Regions from separate parts of the Homo sapiens genome. Here region 1 is linked to region 2. The links come from fine-mapping of genetic effects on gene expression. A gene starts in region 2. The other region holds a variant in brackets. All regions are shown on one strand. Distances are between the middles of the regions.

Region 1 (2,916 bases), 180 kb before region 2:
TCTTTTTTCCCTTTTGTTACCACATTTTCATCTGCCTTTCCCATAGTCAGGACTTTACACCTGGATTGGAGTTCAGCTTCTTCGGCCTTTAGACTGCAATGCTGTTTCCCACGCCCATAGCTGTGACCCATACTGCCACTATGTATACGAGTTACTGTGTAACCTGAGCAAGTGTTAGGAATTAGTACATATATTAAAGTGTCTCCCGTAGACATTTTGCTTTAGGCAGTGATGGAGAACCCATTTGTCTCCAGGCAGATGTTGCTATTGGGCAGTCTAAAGAAAGGCTTGGCTGTGAACACAAGTAGGGATAGGCTGGCAAACACCATAGTTTACTTGTTTGGATTGGACAGGATATACACTGTCCTTTGTGGCTGCCTCCAATGAGGTCCTGGAAAGCACAAAGGAATTTCAGGCCTTGTAGCCAATCATGGCTTAGGATGCAGGGGTTGCAGATGCATCGATCTGACCACCTTCCTGTGGTTTCTCTCCAGCCTGGCTCTTTGGGGCTGAGAACTGCTGCCTCCACTGGAGGGGATTTGTGTGGAGACTGACATGTGGATGCTTGGGCAAAACCAGGCCTTAGGCATAGTTGAAATTTTAGACCATGTATAACTTTAGACTCTAAAGCGTATGTTCTCAATGGGAGCAATGTCACCCCCAAGAGGATGAAATTGGTTCTCAGAGAGCAAAATCTTTTAAATAATTTTTTTGATATAAATCAAAGGTATGTGTACAACACATGGATATACAGTATATCTGTAATGGTAAAATTTGAGGGTATTTAGGGATAAAAATGTCTAAAAAGCCTCCTAAGGGAAAAATAATGAAAAAAAAAAGATGGAGAAACGTTCGTCTTGGGCAGTGGTTCTCAGTGTTGGTTACACACTAGAATTATTGAAAGAGTTTTAAAAATGTTGATGCCTAGGCTGTACTCCAGACCAATTAGATCACAATCTCTTGGATTGGTTTCAGCCACTAGTATTTTTTTTAATTTCTTTCCCTCTTTCCTTCCTTCCTTCCTTTCTCTCTCTCTCTCTCTCTTTTTCTCGAGACAGGGTCTCCCAACGTTATGCAGGTCTTAAACTCCTGAGCTCAAGGGATCCTCCTGCCTGGGCCTCCCAAAGTGCTAGGATTACAGGTGTGAGCCACCACACCTGGCCCAGCTACTAGTATTTTTAATGCTCCAGATAATACCATTGTGCAGCCAAGTCTAGTAATTCCTATTCTAGAGCCTTGGTACTCAGAGTGTGATCCATGGGTCAGTATCGTTATCATCTCCAGGGAGTTTACTAGAAATGCAGAATCTCAGACTCTTAGGTGATTCCTGCACCTATTAAAGTTTGACAAGCACTTAGATAAATACTTATTGCTACCAAAATCTCAGAGCACTTCAGTGCAGCTGTGTTAATCAAATGTCAACATGTTTCTAGCTGTTTGTTTCCGGACCTCACTGTTGGCCTTTGGAATGAACAACCTGGTGTAATGGGAGTGGCCCTAGGCTATATTTGTGTTCTGACCTGTTGGGAAGCCCTGCCATCTCGGAAACTGAACAGACAGCTCATTCCCAGGAAGGGGACCAATGTAAGCAAAGATGGCCAAGTCTAGTCAGCTGGAACTAAGTAAGGGAGGATTCTCACTGTTAAACCAATTACTTTAGAGTTGGTAGTTCTTCAGTAAGAGGCTGGTGCATGGATGCATGGAGAGTGA[T/C]GTTTGGGGCAGGACTAGCTTGGCAAGGCTACAGGATGGATGAGAACTGAGAAAGAATGGGAAGTTGGAAAATTGCTTGTATCTTGTGAGGTCTATGTACGGTCTGCAGTTCATTCATTTGTTCATTCATGTATTCATTCAACAAATATTTATTGAGTGGTCACTATTTGGATTTGATGTGGAGTAATTGTTATGGAAAAAAGAAGGATAAATGTGACAGACCTTGAAGGGAGAGCTTTGGAAATAATGATCCAAAGAAATATGCTAGGAGTAAGCTGGCTTCTATTTTTTTCTTTCTTTTTTTTTTTTTTTTTTTTTTGAGACGGAGTTTTGCTCTTGTCACCCAGGCTGGAGTGCAGTGGCACGATCTCAGCTCACTGCAACCTCCACTTCTAGGGTTCAAGTGATTCTCCTGTCTCTGCCTCCTGAGTAGCTGGGATTACAGGAGTCCATCACCAAGCCCAGCTAATTTTTGTATTTTTAGTAAAGACAGGGTTTTGCCATGTTATCCAGGCTTGTCTCGAACTCCTGACCTCAGGTGATCCACCTGCCTCGGCCTCCCAAAATGCTGGGATTACAGGCATGAGCCACTGTCCTGGCATCTATTTTCATTTCATTTTCAATTTTAAAGTATTTATTTAATATTTAATTATTGACAATGATTGTGTATATTTAAGGTGTACAATGATGGTTTAATATATGTATATACTGTGTAACAATTATCACAATCGAATTAATTAACATGCTACCCATGCTGTGCCTTAGATCACCTTATAACTTAAAGTTTGTACCCTTTGATTAACATCTCCCCATGTCTCCCATTCCTGCAGCTTCTGGCAACCACAATTCTATTCTCTGTTTCTATGACTATGACATTTTTAGTTTCCACAGATGAGTGAGATCACACAGTATTTGTCTTTCTGTGCCTGGCTTATTTCACTTAGCATAGTGTCCTCCAGGCTCATTTACATTGTCTCAAATGGCAGACATTTTTTATGTCTGCCATTTTTATGGCTGAATAATTCCAGTGTGTATGTGTGTGTGTGTGTGTACATTTTCTTTATCCATTTATCCACTGATGAACATGTAGGTTGTTTCCATATCTTGGTTATTGTGAATAGCTCTGTGACAAACACGAAGGTACAGATATCTCTTTGAGATACTGATTTCATTTACTTTGGATAAGTGGGATTATTCAACTGTGGG
Region 2 (2,916 bases):
CTCCAACCCATTGCTCTCTCGAGAGAGAAGGATTGCCCGCCTTTTTCCCCCGGGCAGGAGCTCGGCGAGGCCAGGAGAGCCGCGCACCGGCCGGGCAGGGACGCGCAGGCGTCGGGCGCCGCTGGTTGCGCATCTGGCGCCAGAGCGCGCCCCCAGCGCTGTGCCCGCCGCGACCCGGGCCATGGGCTGGTGCTCCGGAGCGTGCCGGGCGCTCTCTCCCCGCGCGGGGGCACCAGAGCCCTCGGAAGTGTCAGGCACTGCGGTGTATTTTCCCCGTTCTCTTTTAAATGACTGCGGAAAAACAGATTCCGAGCCGCAAAAGGGAAGACGGATTCTCAGACAAGGCTTGCAAATGCCCCGCAGCCATCATTTAACTGCACCCGCAGAATAGTTACGGTTTGTCACCCGACCCTCCCGGATCGCCTAATTTGTCCCTAGTGAGACCCCGAGGCTCTGCCCGCGCCTGGCTTCTTCGTAGCTGGATGCATATCGTGCTCCGGGCAGCGCGGGCGCAGGGCACGCGTTCGCGCACACCCTAGCACACATGAACACGCGCAAGGTACGGCAGGGGAGCAAGGGCTTGGGATGCCCTACGTGGGGGTGGGCATCGCGGGGAGTGAATCCACGATCTGGGAATGGCTACATCCCGTCAGGTTAAAGGATGAGAGAAAATGACGCGGCGCCACACATCGGACAGGCCAGGGTGGCCACCGAGCATTTAGAATACGCATCAGGCGCGCTCCCTTCCCCTCACATGTCTCTATTTCCCGGGCGTGTGATGGCAGAAAACGGCAGGAAAAAGACCCACTTAGAGAGCTAGAATTGTGTTTGGAGACTCCCTTCCCTCTGCAAAAGCACCAACAGGAAGCCCCTCCAAAACCACCGATCCCCAAATAGGTGGCCCGGAATGGGGGCGGTGATCCTTGGTTACCAATGCAGAACACGTTTTGGTGTTTACAACATTTATTTATTTTTAGGATAGCTTGCCCTCCCTTTTAGGCAGGGTGGGAAAGGAGAACGCGGGGAGGGAGAAGGGAGGGAGGATTCCTATAATAAGAATCAGCGCATTTTTCAGAGCTGAACCAAGCACGGTTTCCATTTCAAAAAGGGAGACAGCCTCTACCGCGATTGTAGAAGAGACTGTGGTGTGAATTAGGGACCGGGAGGCGTCGAACGGAGGAACGGTTCATCTTAGAGGTACCTGGATGTAAATGCACACACACACACAGACACACACACGCACGCGCGTGCATGTCTACACGGCCAGGATGTGTGCGTGTGTGCGCGCGTGTGTGAACTCCCACATGCTGCTGCTGTCTGCTTCTGGCCAGTGGCACCGATGCCTCCCTCCTCCCTGCTCGCCCCCAGATTCCCCTCCCCTCCCTGGTGCTTTTGTCTGGAGGGTGTTATGGGTTTGTGTGTGTATGAGCGTGTGTGTGTTTTTGGATTTCAGACTAATTTTCTGGAGTTTCTGCCCCTGCTCTGCGTCAGCCCTCACGTCACTTCGCCAGCAGTAGCAGAGGCGGCGGCGGCGGCTCCCGGAATTGGGTTGGAGCAGGAGCCTCGCTGGCTGCTTCGCTCGCGCTCTACGCGCTCAGTCCCCGGCGGTAGCAGGAGCCTGGACCCAGGCGCCGCCGGCGGGCGTGAGGCGCCGGAGCCCGGGTGAGCAGCGCAGATAGTGCCCTCGGTCGCCTCGGCCCTCACTGTCTCCCCCTGGGGCGGCCTCGGCTACTCCCCAGGTGGGACGTGCCGCGCCACCTGCCCGCGCCACCGGCACCCAGCGGCCGTGGCGGATTCTGCAGCATCATTCGGGGGCCCCGTCGCGGAGCCAAAGCCGCCGGCAGTCTCCGCATTCCCCTTTAAAGGGTCCTTCGCCCGGCCTGTACCATGGAATCCTGTCTTGGGGACCCTTTCCCTACCTCCCCTCCCTTGGCCTCAGGCTCGAAGAGAGAGTGGGCACACTGGTGGCTCCAGCGGCGTCAGTGCCATCGCGGGGCAAGTTGATTCCTGGGCCGGAGCTGGGCACTCATCCATCCACAGTCTCCGGGCTGGGGTCGGGGTGGGGATGACGCGAGCAGAGAGGGAGAGTGCCCCAATTAGTGGTGTTGGGGGTCCTACGCTCAGTCTTACGCGTGTCTGTTTGTCCTCAGCCTCGAGGTGCATACCGGACCCCCATTCGCATCTAACAAGGAATCTGCGCCCCAGAGAGTCCCGGGAGCGCCGCCGGTCGGTGCCCGGCGCGCCGGGCCATGCAGCGACGGCCGCCGCGGAGCTCCGAGCAGCGGTAGCGCCCCCCTGTAAAGCGGTTCGCTATGCCGGGGCCACTGTGAACCCTGCCGCCTGCCGGAACACTCTTCGCTCCGGACCAGCTCAGCCTCTGATAAGCTGGACTCGGCACGCCCGCAACAAGCACCGAGGAGTTAAGAGAGCCGCAAGCGCAGGGAAGGCCTCCCCGCACGGGTGGGGGAAAGCGGCCGGTGCAGCGCGGGGACAGGCACTCGGGCTGGCACTGGCTGCTAGGGATGTCGTCCTGGATAAGGTGGCATGGACCCGCCATGGCGCGGCTCTGGGGCTTCTGCTGGCTGGTTGTGGGCTTCTGGAGGGCCGCTTTCGCCTGTCCCACGTCCTGCAAATGCAGTGCCTCTCGGATCTGGTGCAGCGACCCTTCTCCTGGCATCGTGGCATTTCCGAGATTGGAGCCTAACAGTGTAGATCCTGAGAACATCACCGAAATGTGAGTTCCTGGAGCTTTTCCTCCTTTTTCTCCTTGCCCCTAGGGCCCGAGCTGGCCAGGTGGGTAGGTCCTGGAAGTGAATGCTGTCCCAAGAGTGGGGAGAAGTCAAAGACAAGGGATGCAGGACAGGGTCATCTGTCAGTTACCTGCTGTTTCACTGGCTTGGGACTGCTAGTGCAGGG

The links. PIP is the estimated chance that this variant, and not a neighbour inherited with it, causes the effect.
Region 1: its variant is the best candidate, but not a certain one, in a credible set for the expression of NTRK2 in thyroid (GTEx, PIP 0.54).

Annotation. Positions count from the first base shown.
Region 1 is chr9:84,484,261-84,487,176 of GRCh38, forward strand. The region is part of intron 2 of LOC102724036 (a long non-coding RNA gene); the gene reads left to right. Among named protein-coding and RNA genes, the nearest start is that of SLC28A3, 140 kb to the left of the region's middle. The variant T/C (reference allele first, on the strand shown) is at 1,711.
Region 2 is chr9:84,668,227-84,671,142 of GRCh38, forward strand. NTRK2 (neurotrophic receptor tyrosine kinase 2) reads left to right here and starts at 1,503. Exons shown (of 19, transcript NM_006180.6): 1 at 1,503-1,662; 2 at 2,151-2,734. The coding sequence starts at 2,523. RefSeq lists a silencer at 28-247.